Linked DNA regions of Homo sapiens. The protein of the gene in region 1 interacts with the protein of each later gene in a biochemical or structural test. Each region holds a gene or a part of one and is shown in the gene's direction. Other genes may lie near its edges.

What was found.
Region 2: the proteins of CACYBP (region 1) and LNX1 interact in a test that uses a peptide from one of them, tested with the Homo sapiens proteins (one large-scale study listed by IntAct).
Region 3: the proteins of CACYBP (region 1) and MAST2 interact in a test that uses a peptide from one of them, tested with the Homo sapiens proteins (one large-scale study listed by IntAct).
Region 4: the proteins of CACYBP (region 1) and LIMK2 interact in a test that uses a peptide from one of them, tested with the Homo sapiens proteins (one large-scale study listed by IntAct).
Region 5: the proteins of CACYBP (region 1) and IL16 interact in a test that uses a peptide from one of them, tested with the Homo sapiens proteins (one large-scale study listed by IntAct).
Region 6: the proteins of CACYBP (region 1) and MAGI2 interact in a test that uses a peptide from one of them, tested with the Homo sapiens proteins (one large-scale study listed by IntAct).
Region 7: of the proteins of CACYBP (region 1) and MAPK1, one has a biochemical effect on the other in vitro, tested with the Homo sapiens proteins (2 studies listed by BioGRID).

What each region holds. Positions count from the first base shown.
Region 1 is NC_000001.11:175,006,447-175,009,946, forward strand, and holds part of CACYBP (calcyclin-binding protein), read left to right. Parts: intron 1-298; coding exon 299-395; intron 396-651; coding exon 652-751; intron 752-2,162; coding exon 2,163-2,260; intron 2,261-3,476; coding exon 3,477-3,500. UniProt on the Homo sapiens protein: May be involved in calcium-dependent ubiquitination and subsequent proteasomal degradation of target proteins. Probably serves as a molecular bridge in ubiquitin E3 complexes. Participates in the ubiquitin-mediated degradation of beta-catenin (CTNNB1).
Region 2 is NC_000004.12:53,504,487-53,507,986, reverse strand, and holds part of LNX1 (E3 ubiquitin-protein ligase LNX), read left to right. Parts: coding exon 1-1; intron 2-517; coding exon 518-670; intron 671-3,500.
Region 3 is NC_000001.11:46,033,617-46,036,622, forward strand, and holds the end of MAST2 (microtubule-associated serine/threonine-protein kinase 2), read left to right. Parts: intron 1-185; coding exon 186-322; intron 323-456; coding exon 457-650; intron 651-921; coding exon 922-2,450; 3' UTR 2,451-2,506; downstream 2,507-3,006. UniProt on the Homo sapiens protein: Appears to link the dystrophin/utrophin network with microtubule filaments via the syntrophins. Phosphorylation of DMD or UTRN may modulate their affinities for associated proteins. Functions in a multi-protein complex in spermatid maturation.
Region 4 is NC_000022.11:31,264,298-31,267,797, forward strand, and holds part of LIMK2 (LIM domain kinase 2), read left to right. Parts: intron 1-1,648; coding exon 1,649-1,835; intron 1,836-2,686; coding exon 2,687-2,773; intron 2,774-3,478; coding exon 3,479-3,500. UniProt on the Homo sapiens protein: Serine/threonine-protein kinase that plays an essential role in the regulation of actin filament dynamics. Acts downstream of several Rho family GTPase signal transduction pathways.
Region 5 is NC_000015.10:81,203,379-81,206,878, forward strand, and holds part of IL16 (pro-interleukin-16), read left to right. Parts: intron 1-3,500. UniProt on the Homo sapiens protein: Interleukin-16 stimulates a migratory response in CD4+ lymphocytes, monocytes, and eosinophils. Primes CD4+ T-cells for IL-2 and IL-15 responsiveness. Also induces T-lymphocyte expression of interleukin 2 receptor. Ligand for CD4.
Region 6 is NC_000007.14:78,253,668-78,257,167, reverse strand, and holds part of MAGI2 (membrane-associated guanylate kinase, WW and PDZ domain-containing protein 2), read left to right. Parts: intron 1-586; coding exon 587-1,225; intron 1,226-3,500. UniProt on the Homo sapiens protein: Seems to act as a scaffold molecule at synaptic junctions by assembling neurotransmitter receptors and cell adhesion proteins. Plays a role in nerve growth factor (NGF)-induced recruitment of RAPGEF2 to late endosomes and neurite outgrowth.
Region 7 is NC_000022.11:21,787,646-21,791,145, reverse strand, and holds part of MAPK1 (mitogen-activated protein kinase 1), read left to right. Parts: intron 1-2,337; coding exon 2,338-2,452; intron 2,453-2,757; coding exon 2,758-2,889; intron 2,890-3,500. UniProt on the Homo sapiens protein: Serine/threonine kinase which acts as an essential component of the MAP kinase signal transduction pathway. MAPK1/ERK2 and MAPK3/ERK1 are the 2 MAPKs which play an important role in the MAPK/ERK cascade.

The sequences.
Region 1 (3,500 bases):
TATTTAGTGATCATATTTTTATTCTGAGGGATAAAAAGAGCATAGGTTTTGTATTCAGAAACCTGGATTTGAATCTGAATTCTACCACTTGTTAGATGCCTAGCTTTGGGTAGAGTACTTAACTGCTTTGAGGCTCCATTTCTCAACCTAGAAAATTTCTTATATTTCAAATTTTTTCATGTTTATATGACTGGATTTTCATAATTTTACTTTCCTGACTTATGAGCCATGTGCATTTGCTGTTCTAAAGATAGTTTCAGAGGCTTACTTACGTCCCATCTTTTGTTGTCGTTGCCAGGATGGGATCAGTCAGATAAGTTTGTGAAAATCTACATTACCTTAACTGGAGTTCATCAAGTTCCCACTGAGAATGTGCAGGTGCATTTCACAGAGAGGTGAGTTCTCATTATAATGGGAAAGACAGTGAATTAACAGTCAACATTGCCTTATCTTGAGACTCTCTTCTTTGCAGTTTTTAAAATTCTTAAATTTAGAATTAATTATCCTTTACAACTACTTTGAAGAGGTGAGCGTTAACTGGCCAAATGCACACCCTGAAATAAAGCCAGCAGCTTTTTTCCCACAAGAACTATGGAGTAAGGGTACCTTTCATAGAACTAGAAAGATGATGTATTCACCATTGTGTTGCAGGTCATTTGATCTTTTGGTAAAGAATCTAAATGGGAAGAGTTACTCCATGATTGTGAACAATCTCTTGAAACCCATCTCTGTGGAAGGCAGTTCAAAAAAAGTGAGTGTGCTTTTTTTGATTGTAATATTGTGAAACCTTACCAAATTGAACCTGGCTGATTTAGAACTGAGATGAACTGGAATGAATTTGTCCTCTGTAACAGGGACCACCGCCTGTTTTGTGAATGTTTTATTGGGACATAGCCAGGCTTATTTGTTCATGTGTTGTTTGTGGATGCTTTTGTGCTACAATGGCAGAGTTAAGTGGCTACAGCAGACCATATGGCCCTAAATGAAACCTAAAATATTTACTATGCGGCCCTCGACAGAGAACATTTGCCAACTCCTTTTGTAGAATAGGCTATTGTAAGAATATTCCATTAAAATCAGGGAGGAAGTAAACGTTTGAAGGTAGTTAAGAGTGAGACTTGAGTTTTATGCCAGGTTTACAGCTTATTGTTTGTGACCTTTGGCAGCTTAATCACTCTGTGCCTCAGTTTCTGCATTTATGCGATAGTAATAATTTATTTCACAAAGTTGAAATGATACACTGAAGTGCAATACCATTATGTAAAGTGCTTAAATTAATGCTAGTGTTAGCATTGTGCATAATACTCGTATACATAAAAGGAGGTCTTAAGCACTTAGCCTCCTTGGAGTTAGAAGCAGCTATAAAAATAAGGAAACTGTCTTTTAAAAACTACTCTTTGTAATTTTTACTAAATCAGATAGTCCCTGTTTTCTGCCTAATGTGAATAAATGAAGTTTAATGCGTTAGGTATATAGACATGACATTCTGCCATCTGTTTTTATAATACATAATTACTTAACAGCTTACAGGTGATACTCAAATATAGTTGGATTCGCTGTCTTACTGCACCCTTCTGCATCCGCTAGTCCCATAGGTAGAGTACCAAAAGATCCCTAGTATTGATCATTGTTTAAAAGACCTGTACATTGCCCTTCTTTCTCACTTTCAAATGCCTCACCTTGCCCCATACTGCCTTATACGACTTGGTTTCTTGCCTATCCCCGACCCCTCTTATTATATTACTGTCTTTTTCAGTCACTAAAATCCAGCCACTCCTCCTGCTCCTCAAACACACCAAGATGATCCCATCTTGGAGCCATTCTGCATGCTCTGCCAACTGCCTTCTCCTGACCTTAGGCTTCGGCTCAGATTTGCCTCAGAGAGGCCTTCCTAATGAAGTTCCTGCCCCCACCCCCCATTAACACCCGCTTTGTCTTGATAGCACTTTCCAGGATATCAGGGTATTCAAGTTTTACTTATTTATGGTCTTTTCACACCATGAATGTTCAGATTTTGGCCTATTCATACAAGTATTACTGGCACCCAAAATAAGTCTATACATACTAGGGACTTGATCAATTGAATAGATAATTGTTTTATAAATATTCATGCTTATCTCCATGTCTTCTAAGCTGTATTTGTTTTCCTGCTTTTCTTCCAGGTCAAGACTGATACAGTTCTTATATTGTGTAGAAAGAAAGTGGAAAACACAAGGTGGGATTACCTGACCCAGGTTGAAAAGGAGTGCAAAGAAAAAGAGTGAGTCTACTTCCATTTTTTTAAAGAATTTTAGTGTATTGTTTGAGATCATGGATTTTTAATAGTTTGTCTTTATGGATAATGTATTTCTGCTTTCAACTGTCAAACTACCTGAAGAGGGCACGTCCAGCAAGTTGCTTTTTAAGGTCTTTGTAGTTAAGGGTTGGCTCTTTAGTGTGGTTCTTAACCCTAGGCGCAGTTGTGCTTCTATACAAATAACTGTGCCCATTCCCAGATACTCTGTTTCGGTAGTTTGAGAGGGGCTTAGGTACCCCTGTATGTTTTAAATTTCTCAGATGCTTCTGATGCGTAGTTTTCATTGTCACTGGTTTATAGTGAAAAAGATAAAATATTTTTATCCTTCTTAATAATGACCTTTTAAAAATGTGTATTCAATGATACTTGCGTTCTAGGTCAGTTCATCTTCTAAAGGTACTGACTAAATTAATTCAAGACCCAGGCCCAGATCTGTGTATCTCAGGCTTAAGAGGAGAGTTTTTCTAATTAAAAAATACATGAGCTTCAGGGTACATCCATGTGTAATGTTTATGATTTTCCCTCAAGTGTTTTTTTTCAAATTATGAGGAAACATGCTTTTAAAAAATGAAAACAAGTTAGAAAATCAAATTCTTATTTTACCTGTCAAAAATCACAGGAGGCCAGGTGGGGTGGCTCACGCCTGTAATCCTAGCACTTTGGGAGGCTGAGGCGGGCGGATCACCTGAGGTCAGGAGTTTGAGACCAGCCTGGCCAACATGGTGAAACTCTGTCTCTACTAAAAATACAAAAATTAGCCGGGCATGGTGGCATGTGCCTGTAATCCCAGCTACTCGGGAGGCTGAGGCAGACAGAATTGTTTGAACCTGGGAGGCGGAGGTTGCAGTGAACCGAGATGCGCCACTGCACTCCAGCCTGGGCAACAGAGCAGGACTGTCTCAAAAAAAAAAAAAAAAAAAAAATCATGGGAAATCCCTGTGCCTAAAAATAGCCCCTAACTATTTTGATGACCTCTTTCGTGCACCAAGTGTGTGCATGCTTGATACGTGTGTGTTGTTTTCATTAAGATGAATTTGTGCGTGCCGTTTTGATTGTAAATATCTTTGGGTACTCTGTCTTCCTTCTTATCCCTCTACTTCCTGCCAGTGTTAACAACCTGAATGATAGTATCTTCCGGTGCTTTCGTTTCCCCATTGTTGTATATGTTTTCTTTTTAAAGGAAGCCCTCCTATGACACTGAAAC
Region 2 (3,500 bases), on another chromosome or scaffold:
GGTGAGTCAAATGGGTGGTTGTCCGGGAATGGGCTCCTTGGCTTGCGATTGCCCTCTGTGGAATACTTACTGTGGAAAGTTCTGTAAATGTTTTTTAAGGGGAAATCGTTCTGGTAGTTTTGGCAGGAACCCAATGTCCAATTCGCCAAAGTGAAATGAAACCGCAAGTACCTCCAATCATTAAAACTGTGTGTAATCTGACTTGGTGAAAGGGGCTGAAACTAGACCTAATGATTCATCACTCCTGCAGTGTCAGTAATTTTTCAGCCATGCTGCTCAAGAAAAGTGGTATTGTATTCAGTTCAGCCCAGAAACAAAAAAGAAAAGCAGGATTTTAAGCACGTCGTACATATTTCACTGTAGAAAACTTAAAAAATACAGGTAAGCAAATTCTACAATCCTACCACCCAGAGGTAGTCACTGTTAATGTCTTATTGTGTATATCTTATCAGATATGTACATAAATGATTATTTCTATTAAATCATAACTACTGTTCCTCCTGTCGCTATTCCTCAGCACGGCCCTTTGAGAGATCCACTATTAGAAGCAGATCATTTAAAAAAATAAATCGAGCTTTGAGTGTTCTTCGAAGGACAAAGAGCGGGAGTGCAGTTGCCAACCATGCCGACCAGGGCAGGGAAAATTCTGAAAACACCACTGCCCCTGAAGGTAAATGAACTCCCCATAAGGCTGGATGGACATGGGCTGGGCTTCCAGGGGGACTTCAGGGATGACGCAATCTGATCACCTTCCACCTTCTGTGACCCCTCTCTTCCCAAGGGTATACAATATTTTTTACTTTGATTAGCCTACTTCTCACGTATGTAGCTAAAGGCAGAAAGTATTATCATCTTTTTACATAGATTGAAGAAAAAAGTGTTGAAACCCTCACCTTCAGGCGCTAGTACCATTATGCATATGAGGAAGAATAATTATAATTAATGAGTGAAAAACATTTAAAACAATGACTGGCACATATAATAAATGCAATATATATATTCGCTCTCCTTACTCTTTCAACTACATTTGAGGTGTGGTGCTGAGTGTTTTACATGCATTTCCTCATTTAAGCCTCACAACAACCCTATGAGGTAGCTACTATTATTCCTCTTTTTTTTTTTTTTTTTTTAGACAGAGTTTTGCTTGTCGCCCAGGCTGGAGTGCAACGGCGGCATGATCTCGGCTCACTGCAACCTCTGCCTCCTGGGTTCAAGCAATTCTCCTGTCTCAGCCTCCCAAGTAGGTGGGATTACAGGCACCCACAACCACAACCAGCTATTTTTTGTATTTTTTAGTAGAGACGGGGTTTCTCCATGTTGGTCATGCTAGTCTCGAACTCCTGAACTCAGGTGATCCACCCACCTCGGCCTCTCAAAGTGCTGGGATTACAGGCATGAGCCACCGCACCTGGCGCCACTCCTATTCCTGTTTTACAGATGAGGAAACTGTGGCACAGAGAGGTTACTTAGGTTGCTCAAATTACCTTGCTAAACTTTGAATCCAGGTAACATGGCTGTAGAATTCATGCAAAGGAAGCTATTGAGTCTTAGATCCCATATGTTTTCCCCAATATAAGTGGAGCTGAGGAAATACTGTCCTACTGTCTTTGCATTTTATGTTAGAACTTTAGAGTAGTAGTAACAGCTTTTTTAAAAAATTGAGCTCTTTCTGCATGCACATAGTGTTTTAAGTCATTTAGATGTGACAATAATGTTAAGGGGATAGGACTATCATTCCCATTTTACAGATGAGAAAACGGAGACCCAGAGGGATTAGGTAACTAGCCCAGTCACCCAGCTAAAAAATGGCAGAACCAAGATTTTAAATCAGGTCCTCTGGTTCCAGAGCCTACTCTCTTAGCTCCTGGGTTATACTGCCCTCTACTCTTGGGAGTTGGGAGGCAGAACCCAAACCACTGTATGTATTATGCCCTCAAAATTCATGAGCAGCCTTATCAGACCTTTTCTTGTATACTTATTCATGATTGCCTCTCACCCTGCACGTACATGCTGCATGCTCTAACAGCTCTCAGCTTATTACAGTCCTATAAATGCTGTATATCTTTCTTTCACCTCCCTTCCATTATCCAGCCTGCGCTCCCACTCTCCTTTCAGCTGGCATTCACGTTCCTTCTTCCAGATTTAGTGTAAGACTTTGCCTCCTCCTGGAAACCTCACTCCCTCAGCCCCCTTTTTAGGTGTTTTTGAAGCACCTGTATCAGCGATGATCATGTTTCATGTAACTGTACCTCAAAGTGCAGGGATTATTTTTCTGAATCTTTGTTCTTAAGGCCTAGCACAGTGTCTGGCACATAAGTGTCCACTAAATGTCTGTGCAATGGCTAAATGAAAAGATTAGAACTTCCTTTCCACCAGTCTCTTCCTCTTATTAAAGACTCTTCAATTCCACTCCATGTAAAGTTCTCTACTACTTGGGCCAGACGTGGTGGCTTACTCCTGTAATCCCAGCACTTTGGGAGGCTGAGGCAGCCATATCACCTGAGGGTGGGAGTTTGAGACCAGCCTGGCCAACACAGTGAAACCCCATCTCTACTAAAAATACAAAAATTAGCCAGGGCATGGTGGCGGGCACCTGTAATCCCAGCTACTTGGGAGGCTGAGGCGGGAGAATTGCTTGAACCTGGGAGGCAGAGGCTGCAGTGAGCTGAGATTGTGTCACTGCACTCCAGCCTGGGTGACTCCATCTCAAAAAAAAAAAAAGTTATCTTGAAAAAGATTTATTTGCATATTTATTACAAAAACATTTATAAAACAGATTATTATATGTAAGGCACCGGCCTAGGTGCTGTCATTTTATATAAAGAATATAAAATGTAGTTCTTGGCATCAAGGGGTTTATTCAAGACTAAAATATAATAAAATAAAAGCATACCTCATTTTTATTTTTACAAATTGAAAGCTTGTGGTCACCCTGTAGCCAACAAGTCTGTTTGCTCCATTTTTCCAAAAGCGTGTGCTCACTTCATGTCTCTGTGTCACATTTTGGTAATTCTTGCAGCATCTCAAACTTTTTCATTATTATATCTGTTATGGTGACATGTGATCAGTTATCTTTGGCGTTACTATTGTAATTGTTTTAGCGTGCCACGAGCCATGCCCTTATAGGTCAGTAAATTTAATAATTGTGTGTTCTGACTACTTCACTGGCCATTTCCCCATGTCTCTCTTCTTGGGCCTCCGTATTCCCTGATACATAACAGTATTGAAATTAAGCCAATTAGTAACCCTACAATAGCCTTTGAGTATTCAAGTGAAAGGAAGAGCCACATGTCTCTCACTTTAAATCAAAAACTAGAAATGAACCTTGGTAAGGAAGGCATATTGAAAGCTAAGGTAGGCTGAAAGCTAGGCCTCTCGTGCCAAACAGCCAAGTTATTAATGCAAAGGAAAAGTTCTTGAAGGGAATTAAAAGTGCTACTTCCAGTGAACACATGATTTACAAAGCGAAACAGCCTTATTGCTGATATGGAGAAAGTTTG
Region 3 (3,006 bases), about 130 Mb from region 1:
GGGCTCCAATGGGAGCCATTTCCTCATCTGTAAAAACAATAATATAGGCCTGTGGTTCAGATGTGTTGGTGCAGGGACAAAAAGCTGGAGCTGTGGTATAGCCATGCCAGAAGGGAAGGATTGGGGGAGGGGAGGGGCAAGAATATGGCTCCAGCTTAGCCTAGGCCTCATGCTCTGCTCCCCAGAGTGGAAACAAGGTGGCCATTTCAACAACTCCCCTGGAGAACACATCCATTAAAGTGGGGCCAGCTCGGAAGGGCAGCTACAAGGCCAAGATGGCCCGAAGGAGCAAGAGGAGCCGCGGCAAGGATGGGCAAGAAAGGTGAGCCAGGCGCAGTGAAGAGGGTTTTCTCTGAGCCACATGAGTGCTGGTACGTGGTGGGTGCCTTGGCCCTGGGGGTCCAGTGTGTGCTGTGCTCACTGCACCGACTCAGCCTTTGACCCTTATCCCCGCAGCAGAAAAAGGAGCTCCCTGTTCCGCAAGATCACCAAGCAAGCATCCCTGCTCCACACCAGCCGCAGCCTTTCTTCCCTTAACCGCTCCTTGTCATCAGGGGAGAGTGGGCCAGGCTCTCCCACACACAGCCACAGCCTTTCCCCCCGATCTCCCACTCAAGGCTACCGGGTGACCCCCGATGCTGTGCATTCAGGTACGAAGGGCTCCCTGCAGATCAGTGACAACCCCTGGGAAATAGGAAAGTTCCTAGGCCCTGTGTGCTTCTGACAGATCCCACTCTGAGTCTCTCATTTAGCCCACCCCCTGAAAGATCCTGTAGTCTTGGGGAGGAATTAATTGATGGGGAAGGGGGTAGCTTGGTTTCTGGGACATAACAGGGCTAAGCCCTGTCTTGCCCTTGAGTCACTTCTAACAGCTAACACTGCTCTGCTTTTGTCTGTCTGTCTGTCTGTCTCTGTACAAAGTGGGAGGGAATTCATCACAGAGCAGCTCCCCCAGCTCCAGCGTGCCCAGTTCCCCAGCCGGCTCTGGGCACACACGGCCCAGCTCCCTCCACGGTCTGGCACCCAAGCTCCAACGCCAGTACCGCTCTCCACGGCGCAAGTCAGCAGGCAGCATCCCACTGTCACCACTGGCCCACACCCCTTCTCCCCCACCCCCAACAGCTTCACCTCAGCGGTCCCCATCGCCCCTGTCTGGCCATGTAGCCCAGGCCTTTCCCACAAAGCTTCACTTGTCACCTCCCCTGGGCAGGCAACTCTCACGGCCCAAGAGTGCGGAGCCACCCCGTTCACCACTACTCAAGAGGGTGCAGTCGGCTGAGAAACTGGCAGCAGCACTTGCCGCCTCTGAGAAGAAGCTAGCCACTTCTCGCAAGCACAGCCTTGACCTGCCCCACTCTGAACTAAAGAAGGAACTGCCGCCCAGGGAAGTGAGCCCTCTGGAGGTAGTTGGAGCCAGGAGTGTGCTGTCTGGCAAGGGGGCCCTGCCAGGGAAGGGGGTGCTGCAGCCTGCTCCCTCACGGGCCCTAGGCACCCTCCGGCAGGACCGAGCCGAACGACGGGAGTCGCTGCAGAAGCAAGAAGCCATTCGTGAGGTGGACTCCTCAGAGGACGACACCGAGGAAGGGCCTGAGAACAGCCAGGGTGCACAGGAGCTGAGCTTGGCACCTCACCCAGAAGTGAGCCAGAGTGTGGCCCCTAAAGGAGCAGGAGAGAGTGGGGAAGAGGATCCTTTCCCGTCCAGAGACCCTAGGAGCCTGGGCCCAATGGTCCCAAGCCTATTGACAGGGATCACACTGGGGCCTCCCAGAATGGAAAGTCCCAGTGGTCCCCACAGGAGGCTCGGGAGCCCACAAGCCATTGAGGAGGCTGCCAGCTCCTCCTCAGCAGGCCCCAACCTAGGTCAGTCTGGAGCCACAGACCCCATCCCTCCTGAAGGTTGCTGGAAGGCCCAGCACCTCCACACCCAGGCACTAACAGCACTTTCTCCCAGCACTTCGGGACTCACCCCCACCAGCAGTTGCTCTCCTCCCAGCTCCACCTCTGGGAAGCTGAGCATGTGGTCCTGGAAATCCCTTATTGAGGGCCCAGACAGGGCATCCCCAAGCAGAAAGGCAACCATGGCAGGTGGGCTAGCCAACCTCCAGGATTTGGAAAACACAACTCCAGCCCAGCCTAAGAACCTGTCTCCCAGGGAGCAGGGGAAGACACAGCCACCTAGTGCCCCCAGACTGGCCCATCCATCTTATGAGGATCCCAGCCAGGGCTGGCTATGGGAGTCTGAGTGTGCACAAGCAGTGAAAGAGGATCCAGCCCTGAGCATCACCCAAGTGCCTGATGCCTCAGGTGACAGAAGGCAGGACGTTCCATGCCGAGGCTGCCCCCTCACCCAGAAGTCTGAGCCCAGCCTCAGGAGGGGCCAAGAACCAGGGGGCCATCAAAAGCATCGGGATTTGGCATTGGTTCCAGATGAGCTTTTAAAGCAAACATAGCAGTTGTTTGCCATTTCTTGCACTCAGACCTGTGTAATATATGCTCCTGGAAACCATCTTTATGTCTTTTGCTTGCTTGTTTTCCTTCGGTCAACCCACATGTAACTAGGTCCTGTGTTGCTGCTGGGAATATAGTGGTGAATAAAACAGTTTCCACCACCAGGGGAGGGCCACCTAACCCAGCTTGACTTCCCAAAGGCTTTGACATTTGAGCTCAAACATGAAGAATAGATGATAGGTAGTAGTTTGCTGGGTGTGGAAGAGTGGAGGTTGGCATAAGAAAGGCTGTCCAGGCAACGTTTAGCACATGCAGTATACCTGGCATAGTCAAGGAACCAAAGATAATTCAAAGTAGAAACGGGTCTGGCAAGTGAGGCAAGGGCCATGTCTAATGGTCTTCCAGGAGATTTGACTTCGTGAAGGTGATGGGGAACCAGAAAATACCATGTAGCAACTAAAATTCCTTCATAGATAAGGGCACTAAGACTTTGATGCCCATGGTAATACAGTAGCTTGGGTAGAACGGGGGTTAGAACGTAGGTCTCCCTTGGACTCC
Region 4 (3,500 bases), on another chromosome or scaffold:
GAGGCAGAGCAAAAGGACAAGGGTAAGTAAACCTGTAGGTCGGGACAAGCCAAGAGCCATCCAGCGTCAGTCCTCTCTGGGTAGCCCAAGTAAAGCAGGAGCATACCCCAGAGAGAAAGTTCGCAGGGCTGTTCACCTGCAGTGCTGTGGACTTCAACCTTCTTGTTCCTTCTTCAGTAAGTGAAAATAACAGTCATTGACCATGACTATTATCGACCGCTTTTGAAAATGTAAACATAGTGACTTTATTGCTGTAAAAATCATACGTGTTTATCATCTTAAAATTCAGGAAACATGGACAGGTACAAAGATGTGCAAAATATCATCCAAAATCCCATTTGCTGGCCAGGCACGGTGGCTCACGCCTGTAATCCCAGCACATTGGGAGGCCGAGGCGGGCAAATCACTTGAGGTCAGGAGTTTGAGACCAGCCTGGCCAACATGGTGAAACCCTATCTCTACTAAAAATACAATAATTAGGCTGGGCGCAGTGGCTCACGCCTATAATCCCAGCACTTTGGGAGGCCGAGGTGGGCGAATCACAAGGTCAGGAGTTTGAGACTAGCCTGGCCAATATGGTGAAACCCCATCTCTACTAAAAATACAAAAATTAGGGCCGGGTGTGGTGGCTCACGCCTGTAATCCCAGCACTTAGGGAGGCCGAGACAGATGGATCGCGAGATCAGGAGTTCGAGACCAACCTAGCCAACATGGTGAAACCCCATCTCTACTAAAAAAATACAAAAATTATTCGGTTGTGGTGGCACACGCCTGTAATCCCAGCTACTTGGGAGGCTGAGGCAGGAGAATCTCTTGAACCTGGGAGGCAGAGGTTGCAGTGAGTGGAGATCCCGCCGTTGCACTCCAGCCTGGGCGACAGAGTGAGACTCCATCAAAAAAAAAAAAAAAAAAAAAAAAATTAGCCGGGCGTGGTGGCGTGCACCTATACTCCCAGCTACTTGGGAGGCTGAGGCAGGAGAATCGCTTGAACCTGGAAGGCGGAGGTCGCAGTGAGCCGAGATCGTGCCATTGCACTTCAGCCTGGGCGACAGAGCGAGACTCTGTCTCAAAAATAATAATAATAACAATAACTAGCCGGGCCTGGTGGCACATGCCTGTAGTCCCAGTTACTCAGGAGGCGGAGGCATGAGACTCAGGTGAACTAGGGAGACAGAGGTTGCAGTGAGCCAAGATCACACCACTGCACTCCAGCCTGGTTGACAGAGCGAGACTCTGTCTCAAAAAAAAAAAATCCCATTTGCTCATTTTTTGGATACTAGTATAACTATCACTCTAAACCAGTTAGTACTTAAATCAAGCAGATATGGGAGATGGTGAATTACCATCTACAGTGTTGTCATATATGTCACATACTGAGCATTATCAGCTAGTAGAATCTAGTTAATTGTTCTATGTGTGATGTATGCAGAGTTCCCATTTTGAATGTGTTTTTACTATGCTTAAATAAATGACTGATGTCAGCAACCCCAAAATGATACATCTGATGTAAGAGCCCCTGTTCCCCAATAATAACATCTAAACTATAGACATTGGAATGAACAGGTGCCCCTAAGTTTCCTCCCTCCAGGGTTTCTTGGCCGGTCTCTGAGGACTACACATCCCTACTCCCGTCTTTCCTCATCTTCAGGCGCAGTAACAGTATCTCCAAGTCCCCTGGCCCCAGCTCCCCAAAGGAGCCCCTGCTGTTCAGCCGTGACATCAGCCGCTCAGAATCCCTTCGTTGTTCCAGCAGCTATTCACAGCAGATCTTCCGGCCCTGTGACCTAATCCATGGGGAGGTCCTGGGGAAGGGCTTCTTTGGGCAGGCTATCAAGGTGAGCGCAGGCAACAATTGCTTTGCTCTTCTGCCCCCAGTCCCTCTGTCACTGTCTTTCGGGGATTTCTCATCACTTGGCCCCACCCCACACCATGCAGGATGCCAGGCCTCCTTCCTGGCTTTGGGTGTTGGTGTGAGAGGTATCCTTCACCCCCACCCAGGCCACCTAAGGTCAATGTTGCTGTTACAGTGAGCTTGTGGACCTGGAGATCCAGGTTGGGTTGAGCTGTGCCTGTGGCCCTCCTGCCTCCAGTCAGTGGGTGTTTGTTAGGTGCCTGCAGACCTCAGTACCGGGCATGCTACAAGGAGCACACAGGGGAATGGCTCCTGCCTCCCTGGTGAACAGTCTCAGGGACTAACCTCTCTCTTTCTCTCCTCCTCCTCCTCTTCTGCTGAGAACTGGGAGGGGGGGTCAGGTAAGACGTGTGTCTCAGCTTGGGGGCAGCAGGGCTGGAGAGCTCACCCCCGATCCACCCAGCTCCCTGGTGCATGTCTTTGGCACTGACCTTCCTGCCCCCAGACTTCTGTTCACTCAGGAGACTCACTTCTATGCCAAATGACCAGAGCCCCTGCTTGGCTTGGCAGCATCCCCTCCTGCCTTCTTCCCCACTTCCCTTTTCTGGGTTCTTGCCTGTCCTCTGTGCATGCCCAGCTCTCCAGGAAAGAGGGTTTGCTTCCGTGTGAGTCCCATGTTGCTCCACGCTGCATCTTCCACACATGAACTCTGTCATTCTGACCCGGCTCAGTGTGCCCTCCAAGGGATGGGATGGCCAGCTGCATAGATTTTCTCAAACAGTTCTCCAGAACTTCCTCTGGTCTCAGCACCATTAACAGTCACCCTCCCTGTAGGTGACACACAAAGCCACGGGCAAAGTGATGGTCATGAAAGAGTTAATTCGATGTGATGAGGAGACCCAGAAAACTTTTCTGACTGAGGTAAGAAGATGGAGGGGGCCCGGGAGGTTGGTGTCACCATTGGAAGAGAGAAGACCTTACAAATAATGGCTTCAAGAGAAAATACAGTTTGGAATTACTGTCTTAAAGACTAAGCAGAAAAGAGCCCTAGAGGAATATCCCACTCCCTCTAAATTACAGCGTAATTATTTGTTCAATGAACACTTACTAAAAGCAACACAAACAGGGTACAAGGGATGCAGTAACAAAAGATACAGGGTTCAGAAGAGCTCTCAGGTTATGAGGATGATGGACATGAAAACACTCCAATTTAGTACAACTCAATGTTATAATCCTCACCTGAACGCCCTGCTAAGGGAGCCTGGAGGGGAGCTCCCTGAGCACTCACACTCCTTGGGCATTTACAGTTTTCACTACCCCTCCCAAGTTACTTCATGGAGTAACTTAAGTTGGGGACACCTGTGGTCTGGGTATTGCCCTCCAAGCCACTTGGCCACTCCCACCCCAGTTCTCCCAATGCAGTTCCAAGGGTAAGGCCTATGAAGCCATCTCCATCTATATGGTGGTGGTCTTCCCTCATCCTGATCTTAGTGCCCTGTCATATCACAAGATAGGAGGTAGGAGATACAGGTGGTAACACTTGTCAAGCTGATTCCTTGGAGGGAAGAGGTAAGGAAGACAGTGAGAAGTTAACCACCAGCTTTCCTTGGCTTCCCCCACCCCCAGGTGAAAGTGATGCGCAGCCTGG
Region 5 (3,500 bases), on another chromosome or scaffold:
GACATGAAGTCCTTGCCCATGCCTATGTCCTGAATGGTATTGCCTAGGTTTTCTTCCAGGGTTTTTATGGTTTTAGGTCTAACATTTAAGTCTTTAATCCATCTTGAATTAATTTTTGTATAAGGTGTAAGGAAGGGATCCAGTTTCAGCTTTCTACATATGGCTAGCCAGTTTTCCCAGCACCATTTATTAAATAGGGAATCCTTTCCCCATTGCTTGTTTTTGTCAGGTTTGTCAAAGATCAGATAGTTGTAGATATGCGGCATTATTTCTGAGGGCTCTGTTCTATTCCATTGGTCTATATCTCTGTTTTGGTACCAGTACCATGCTGTTTTGGTTACTGCAGCCTTGTAGTATAGTTTGAAGTCAGGTAGCGTGATGCCTCCAACTTTGTTCTTTTGGCTTAGGATTGACTTGGCAATGCGGGCTCTTTTTTGGTTCCATATGAACTTTAAAGTAGTTTTTTCCAATTCTGTGAAGAAAGTCATTGGTGGCTTGATGGGGATGACATTGAATCTATAAATTACCTTGGGCAGTATGGCCATTTTCACGATATTGATTCTTCCTACCCATGAGCGTGGAATGTTCTTCCATTTGTTTGTATCCTCTTTTATTTCCTTGAGCAGTGGTTTGTAGTTCTCCTTGAAGAGGTCCTTCACATCCCTTGTAAGTTGGATTCCTAGGTATTTTATTCTCTTTGAAGCAATTGTGAATGGGAGTTCACTCATGATTTGGCTCTCTGTTTGTCTGTTATTGGTGTATAAGAAAGCTTGTGATTTTTATACATTGATTTTGTATCCTGAGACTTTGCTGAAGTTGCCTATCAGCTTAAGGAGATTTTGGGCTGAGACGATGGGGTTTTCTAGATATACAATCATGTCATCTGCAAACAGGGACAATTTGACTTCCTCTTTTCCTAATTGAATACCCTTTATTTCCTTCTCCTGCCTAATTGCCCTGGCCAGAACTTCCAACACTATGTTGAATAGGAGTGGTGAGAGAGGGCTTCCCTGTCTTGTGCCCGTTTTCAAAGGGAATGCTTCCAGTTTTTGCCCATTCAGTATGATATTGGCTGTGGGTTTGTCATAGATAGCTCTTATTATTTTGAAATACGTCCCATCAATACCTAATTTATTGAGAGTTTTTAGCATGATGGGTTGTTGAATTTTCTCAAAGGCCTTTTCTGCATCTATTGAGATAATCATGTGGTTTTTGTCTTTGGTTCTGTTTATATGCTGGATTACGTTTATTGAATGCTAAATGACGAGTTAATGGGTGCAGCACATCAACATGGCACATGTATACGTATGTAACAAACCTGCACGTTGTGCACATGTACCCTAAAACTTAAAGTATAATAATAACAAAATTAAAAAAAAAAAAGAAAAAAAAGAAAATTTGGAAGGCATTGGAAGCAGCCTGCACCAAGTCCTGGAAGCTAGAGAGCGCATGGGACATTCAGGGGACTGAAAAGGTTTAGTGCTGTAATAGAATGGAGTTCAAGATAGGGCAGAGCAAGAGCCTGGAGGGGTTGGGGGAGCAGACCATGATGATAAAAAAATTGACAGGCCACAAAACAAGACAAATTTTAAGTCTCAGTGACGGTTGTTAATACGATTTTGAAATAAAGCAAATGATAAATCTTAGACCGGGCGCAGTGGCTCACACTTGTAACCCCAGCACCTTGGGGGGCCAAGGTGGGTGGATCATTTGAGGCCAGGAGTTCAAGACCAGTTGGCCAACCTGGTGAAATCCCATCTGTACTAAAAATACAAAAATTAGCCGGGCATAGTGGCACGTGCCTGTCATCCCAGCTACTCGGGAGGCTAAGGCAGGAGAATGGCTTGAATCTGGGAGGCGGAGGTTGCAGTGAGCCGAGATCACACCATTGCACTCCAGCCTAGATGACAGAGCAAGACTCCATCTCAAAAAAAAAAAAAAAATCTTGAGAGATGATATATAATGATCTATGATGTCCCCTAAATAGTCAATCACTCTGAGAGCACCTAGCACCTCACCTCTTGCATAGGGAAGAGGCATCAGATAGTGCCATTCTTGCAATCAATGAAGAGGAAAAATACAGGCTCAAATATTGCTTTGAAAAATTCTTTACATAGCCACCAGTAATATCAAATAAAATGAATGAAACCTATGATTCATTAAGAAGGAAAAGAAAGTGTGAATAAGTTGACTGGAAAACAAGAAAAGGAATAATTAAGGAGCCATAATAAGAAAAACAAAACATGTGAGAAGAAAGATGAATCAATTAAGCTCTGTAGTAAGATTACACATTAAAATAAAAGAGACTCTCAGATTCAGTTTAAAAAAGGGAAACAAAAAAAGCCTAAAGAAACAAACTCTCTCTCCCCAGTCCAATTATATCCCACTTTCAAGAGACACATTTAAAACTTAATCACATAAAGTTACAAATAAAGGGATAGGAAAATACTGTGCAAATGCAAATTAAAAGAAAGTGAGGTGTCAGTGTTAATTTTGTCAGACAAAATAAAAATTGAGGCAACTATTAAATAGATCAAGAATTACTTTTTTACAAAATGATAAAAAGAGCACTCAATGAAGGCATGAAAATCAGAAAACTTTGGGTAAACATAAAGCGTCGAAATATGTAAAACAAAAAAATTAGAGATATACTCCAAATATGGTGTTAGATTTCAATGTACACCACTGTTAAGATTTTTTCAGATTAATTAGACAAAATGTACATAAAGAGCTTGAATTCTATGACTTACAAAATTGAATATGTGCTTACATATATATGCAGTCATGTGTTGCATGGCAATGAAGATAAGTTCTGAGAAATTTCATCGTCGTACAAACGTTACATAGGGTACTTAAACAGACCTGGATGGTATAGCCTACTACACCCCAAGGCTATATGGTATTGCCTACTGCTTCTAGTCTACAAGCCTGTACAGCATGTTATTGTAGGCATTTGTAACACAGTGGTAAGTATTTGTGTATCTGAACATTTGTAACAAAAGGTACAGTAAAAATATGGTATTTTAATCTTATGGGACCACTATCATATAAGCAGTTCTTTGTTGACCATAATGACTGCATTTTAATATCACATTTGAATATATACATATTTGAAACCCAAAACACAGAATAATCATTCTTTTCAAATGTGCACAGAACACATAAAACACTTAGTCACATCACATACTGGCTAACAGAGTAAACCTCAATGAATTCCAACAAATAAAAATAAGACACATCCTGTGGCACGATGCAATTAAACTGGAATTTTCTAATAAAAAATTGTAAGAACAGCAACACTAAATCTGGGAAATTTAACTACATGAAATTAACAATAACACCAAAAATCTCCTGAAGAACTGAGTTTAAATTGGGAATCAAAACTGCAATTACAGACCATTCCTAAAATAACATTTAGAATATTGTATTTCACAATTCCTGGGTTGGGGCCAAAAGGATGTTCAGAAGAGAATTTCGGGCTTTAAATAATGATGATGATG
Region 6 (3,500 bases), on another chromosome or scaffold:
CCAGCTCCCTAATCCCAAAACCTGCACCCTTGACCTTTGCTCGCATATACATGGAAGCTTTGTAATTACCTGCTATAGATGGAAAAAAATAAATGGGCAAATATTTTTCTGTTCCATAAAAAAGAAAAAAGGCAATTGACTTATTCAACTTATACAAAAAAAAATATGCTAGGGCTTTGTTTTTCGTCTAAAACTCATGACCACTACTTCTCAATAGTTCGAAAATTATATTAACTGAATTACACTGAAGATGGAATATAAGATGAAAAAGAAGCATAGAGAATGTGCTTCTTCAAGGTACACATTCCTCTAACCTTTTCTTTCAGAGCCTTTGTTTCTGAATATGAAGTTGTTTCTGAACTTCAAGAATAACCAAATAGCTTTTTTTCAGCACTTCATCATTGTATTTGCTGGCAGTCCTGTTGTAACCTTGAGTCACCCACAGTGATTTTAAGTATTATTCTAATTGATTTCTCACTGCTTACTAAGAAACAACACCTCTCACTAGTCTCGTAAATAATTCCATTTCTCTATGTCAATGTTAATTGAACTTACCTCATGTTGTCAATCTCTTTTTTTCTTACAGGTGATGTCATTGTCTATATTAATGAAGTTTGTGTCCTTGGACACACTCATGCAGATGTTGTCAAACTTTTCCAGTCTGTTCCTATTGGTCAGAGTGTCAACCTGGTGTTGTGTCGTGGCTACCCTTTGCCCTTTGATCCTGAAGACCCTGCTAACAGCATGGTGCCACCCCTTGCAATAATGGAGAGGCCACCTCCAGTGATGGTCAATGGAAGACACAACTATGAAACATATTTGGAGTACATTTCTCGGACCTCACAGTCAGTTCCAGATATAACAGATCGGCCGCCTCATTCTCTGCACTCCATGCCAACTGATGGTCAGCTAGACGGCACGTATCCACCGCCCGTCCATGATGACAATGTGTCTATGGCTTCATCTGGGGCCACCCAAGCTGAACTTATGACCTTAACCATTGTGAAAGGTGCCCAGGGCTTCGGCTTCACTATTGCCGACAGTCCTACAGGACAGCGGGTGAAACAAATACTTGACATTCAGGGATGCCCTGGCCTGTGTGAAGGCGACCTCATTGTTGAGATCAACCAGCAGAATGTACAGAACCTGAGCCATACAGAAGTAGTGGATATACTTAAGGACTGTCCCATTGGAAGTGAAACTTCTTTGATTATCCATCGAGGAGGTAAGACAAACACTGGCTCAGCAATAAAATATGTGGGTAAAATAGTAGGATCATTTAATAATATTGTTAAAATGCAGATTTCCTTGGAGTTGAATGAAATTATACTTTAAAAAATAAAGCTTAAAGAGTGAGAGAGAAAAACATGAATTAAAGGAAACTTTGTTTTTGAATTCAGAATATGTCTTTTTCTATTTTGTATTAAACACAATAATAATAGTTCTTTCAGTCTTACAGACATATTGATAGAAAGTTGGAGGGTAAAGATTAAATCCCCAACTATGAATGTATTTTGTTTCAAAAATTCATTCATGTATCGGTCATGGAGAACTCAAACTGGTTTCCCATTGATTTAATTAAGAAACCTGCTTTTACGATGGAAGCAACGCTTTTAATCGTGCTTAGGTTTCCAGGCTAGCAGGTGGAAGCCAGTTCAACCCCTACTAAGCCCAAGCACAGTCTTGACAATACTCAGAAGGACCATGAACTGTGAGAGCTGTGGGAGCTGTGCTGCTGTAGAAAAATCTTTTCACAGTTTGGAATGATGCTGTTCAGGACACTTCTGCTACTACAGGAACTGCACTAGCAACAATTACCCATAGTGCCTCCCATGATCTGGGAAGAAAGTTACAGAACAGGGTGAGGGCTGAAGTTCTGGCCTGAGTGTCCCGGGCAAAGTATGGAAATAGGAACAGTGCCAAGTGTGGTAGAAGCTCTGAGCCCTGAATGTTTCTTCCCCTCTACCTTTTCTGTGGGGAAGGGAATGGGGTAAAGCACAGGGCCCCTTCTCCACACCTCTGCTGCTTTGCTCTGGATGACCAGTGAACCTAGAGAGAGAAGGGAGGGAAGGGGCCATAGATAAAGAGGATACTATCTCGAAAAAAGAGTGTAAAGGAAAAGGATCAGGCTAAGCCCTGGTTTTCCCATTTGCCAATTTGTGGACTTAGGACACTGAAAGTCAATGAGCCTCAGCCATGTCATCTGTTACAATGGGATAATACTACTACCTAACCCAGTGGTAGTGTTGTAGCCCAACATCTGCTCACTAAATGTCTGGCGAGTGTAAACATCGAAGCTTCAGCATGGGTGGGTCAGAAGGAACAGGACAATGAGGAACTCATGCATGAAGGACACACGTGTGACAAACATGTGGTTGCCTATTCAAAGCACTCAAAACAGCCTGAAACTCTCAGTTTGAAATGCAAGTGAAGGCTGTCAAAGCTGAAAGAAAGAAGCACCTTTTATGATTTATTTGGCCCTGTCTGCAGGTGTTTTTCCTTCAAGGAAGTATCACATTGTTGATTCCTTGTTTGGAAACGGACAGCAAACACCAGGCATTTGTGAGCAGCACTCTACAAAGTCTTAGGTTCCCGGTACTAAAAGGGAAATTCATATGATAGCCAAACAATCTTAAATTTGACCTTCTCAAGGCATTGTTACAAAATAGCACTTGAATTCTCATAATTAAATGTTGGCAAGGTATTTTAATTTCTTGCATTGCTTAAGATTAAAATAAACATTGCTAATTAAATAGCCATATCTTCATAGTGTCCAAATGAAAATCAAATATTTGGACCAAGTTCTTGATATTAAATGGTATCACAAACTCACTGTGCAGTATCCACTGTATGATTCATAGAAACAAATTTGGATGCATTTTTTATATACAGCTTCTTCTAAAAGCATGACATAGCAGAAAAAAGGTACTTTGAAATCCCTAATTTACATTATGGTAATTTGTACTTTTCTGAAAATATTCGTTGTGTGCCTGCTATCAGCTTGGCTACCCCATTCTCACTTTTCCTTTGCCCCCCATTTACTCCACAAGTAATCAAAGTGGTCTTTGCATTTGGTTTGTGTTTGGGGATGAGGGAATTGGTTTTTGTTTTTTGCCTAGCATAGCAAAATGCAGAATGCTGTGATGCTTAAAGTACTTCTAGTCGAAAACCTCTTGAGTTTACCCTAATTCCCACAATTTATACTCATCTCTCTGAAATTAATAGGAACTAGCACCATGCTTATGTGGTGAAATTCACTTTATCTTATTATGGGCTACCAGAAGTGCCTATGACCTCTTTGAGATAAGCAGACTCAAGAGCTGAGTCGCAGGCCTGGGTCCTTATATCAGGACCATGGGTGGTCGGCTGTTTTTAATTATTTACTAGAGTTTTTAATTTATAAAGTAATAATGTACATGGTTTAACTTTTTTAAAGCAAATAATGTCAACAAGTATAAAATGAAAGTAATTGTCTGTCCTATCCCAGACTTTCAGTCCTT
Region 7 (3,500 bases), on another chromosome or scaffold:
CAGCCTGGGTGACAAAGCAAGACTCCGTCTCAAAAAAAAAGGACGGGTTCTCATTCTGTCACCCAGGCTGGGGTACCGTGGCACCATCTCGGCTCACTGCAACCTCCGCCTCCTGGGCTCAAGGCCATCCTCCCACCTTAGCCTCCCAAGTATCTGAGACTACAGGCACGTGCTACTGCTCATGGCTGATTTACTTATTTATTTTTGTGCTTTTCATAGAGACAGGTTGTTGTGTTTCTTTAGTCTCCTTTAAGAGTGCAGATGAGCTATTTTGTAGAATGCCCCTCAGTTTTGGGTCATGCATTTTTAACATGAATACCAGAAAAGCACTTCATTGTATTAGAAGGCACTTCTGGAGCCAGGTATGGTGCCTCATGCCGTAATCCCAGCTCTTTGGGAGGCTGAGGCAGGAGGATCATTTGAGCCCAGGAGTTTGAAACCAGCCTGGGCAAATAGTGGGACCCCTTCTCTACAAAAAATTTAAAAATCAACCAGGTGTGGTGGTGTATGCCTGTGGCCCACCTACTGTGTGCCAGCTACTCAGTAGTGCCAGCTACTCAGGACCTGGCTGAGGTGAGAGGATCACCTGAGACAAGGAAGTTGAATTTGCAGTGAGGCATGATTACACCATTGCACTTCAGCCTGAGTGACAGAGTGATGACACCATCTCTTAATTTTAAAAGAGTCAGCTTATATTCCTTGGAGAAACATCTTTTTTGCACCATTGTTATGATTCAGACAGAATCCTTCCATGATTTTTTTTTTTTTTTTTTAATTTTTAGAGAAAGGGTCTCACTCTGTCACCCAGGCTGGAATGCATTGGCTCGGTCACAGCTCACTGCAGCCTCCAATCCCTGGGCTTAAGTGATCCTCCCACCTCAGCCTCCCGAGTAGCTGGGACTGCAGGTGTGAGCCACCATGTGTGGCAAAATAATAATAATAATGATAATAATAATAATAATTAGTTAATACCCAGTGTTGTTGAGGACATGAGGAAATGCATTTTCTTTCACATGCTGCTATTAGGAGTGTAACAGTGCAACTGCAGTCATAGTTCACTGCAGCCTCAAACTCCTGGCCTCAAGCAGTACTCCCACCTCAGCCTCCCAAAGTATCCTCCCATGACTTCTAACAGGATTCCTTTAAAAGAAAACATATTCCTGAAAAATGAATAGGAAAAGAAGATGAGAATTCTTTTATTTTATTTTATTTGTTATGTTATGTTATATGTTATGTTATGTTTTATGTTATGTTTATGTTATGTTATGTTATGTTATGTTATGTTATGTTATGTTATGTTATATGTTATGTTATGTTATTTTTGGAGATGGAGTCTCCCTGTGTTGCCCAGGCTGGAGTGCAGTGGTGCAATCTCGGCTCACTGCAACCTCTGCCTCCTAGGTTCAAGCAATTCTCCTGCCTCTGCCTCCCAAGTAGCTGGAACTATGGGTGCCCACCACCACGCCCGGCTAATTTTTGTAGTTTTAGTAGAGACAGGGTTTCACTATGTTGGCCAGGCTGATCTTGAACTTCTGACATCAGGTGATTCGCCCGTCTCGGCATCCCAAAGTGCTGGGATTACAGACGTGAGCCACCATGCCCAGCTGAGAATATTTTAGAAGAGATTGGTAAAATATGATGGAGCTAGCACACACTCCCCCAAACCCAGAAAAGGTTTTTAGACCTTTTTTCTTTTTCCAGCTCCAATTTATGACAATTCTAAATCTGTCTCTCAAATTGTTTCAAAAAAGGACGGATGTATACTTTGGAAATTCTAATTTAATAAGTTAATCAACTTTGTGGGTTTGTTGTTGTTTTGAGACAGAGTCTCGCTCTGTCACCCAGGCTGGAGTGCAGTGGCACGATCTTGGCTCACTGCAACCTCTGCCTCCTGGGTTCAAGCAATTCTCCTGCCTCAGCCTCCCACGTAGCTGGGATTACGGGCACCCACTACCATGCCCGGCTAATTTTTTTGTATTTTTAGTAGAGATGGGGTTTCACCATGTTGGCCAGGCTAGTCTCAAACTCCTGGCCTCAAGTGATCCGCCCGCCTCGGCCTCCCAAAGTGCTGGGATTACAGGCATTAGCCACTGTGCCCAGCCCAAGTTAATCAACTATGAAGAGAAAAATAAAATCACATAATCTTGGTTGTTCAGCCTCTCATAAGAAAGCCAAATTGTTTTTTGCTTTTCCATGTTGTTTACTTGTATTTCTGAATTGTAGAGTCAAAGGAGAAGTTCAGAGTCCCATCAGCAATGCACCTGTCATACAGGAAGATCTCATCATGTCCTGTAACACCAGATACCATTTTCAGTCTTTTCTCTCTTTCTCCTGCAGGGCTACACCAAGTCCATTGATATTTGGTCTGTAGGCTGCATTCTGGCAGAAATGCTTTCTAACAGGCCCATCTTTCCAGGGAAGCATTATCTTGACCAGCTGAACCACATTTTGGGTAAGGTTCCCGAGCCCTTCAGGAGCTAGATTTACTCAAGTTTGTACAGCTTACATCAAAGTCACTTCATTAAATTAAGAAGAGTTCTAATATACTCTTTAACCTGTGGTAGGTGTGAATTTTTAACCTTCTCTGATTTAAAATGTTAAGGACTTTTGTGTAAAAACATAAGAAAGGTAAACATCAGGAGTGGTGATAAGCAACGGCTCATATCAATTATCAGGGTTCATTCCGACTCAGAGTTGATGGTGTGTAGTCATTTACCTTGGTCCTGATAACTAATAGCTAATTTTTTTATCTGATAGGTATTCTTGGATCCCCATCACAAGAAGACCTGAATTGTATAATAAATTTAAAAGCTAGGAACTATTTGCTTTCTCTTCCACACAAAAATAAGGTGCCATGGAACAGGCTGTTCCCAAATGCTGACTCCAAAGGTAAATGTTATTTCGTTGATTAGTTTTTTCTTAGGCTTAGCTTCGCGTTTATTTGTTAAATTGTTAGGTCACTAGCCTGAAAAATGAGCCTATGGCTATTGGATAATGCTTTCTTTAGTGCTCACTCTGAATTGTTGTCTTCCCCCTTTTTTTTTTTGGAAACAGTGGCAGTGCAGTAAGGGAACCTGGTAATGACGGTCTAGTTCTCCACCTTTTGGTTTCTTTGCTAATTTTAATTTGCATTAAGGTCACTTTTTTTTTGTTTTTGTTTGAGACAGTGTCTCACTCTGTCGCCCAGGCTGGAGTGTAGTGGCCCGATCTCGGCTCACTGCAACCTCCTCCTCCCGGGTTCAAGCGATTCTTCTGCCTCAGCCTCCCAAGTAACTGGGACTACAGACGCGTACCACCACGCCTGGCTCATTTTTGTATTTTTAGTAGAGACAGGGTTTCACCATGCTGGCCAGGCTGGTCTCGAACTCCTGACCTTTTGATCTGCCCACCTTGGCCTCCCAAAACTGGGATTACAGGCGTGAGCCACAGCGTTCAGCCTAAGGTCACATTTTTAGGTCTCAGGAAGTCTAGGACCCTGCAAACAAATTACACCTTTTCAT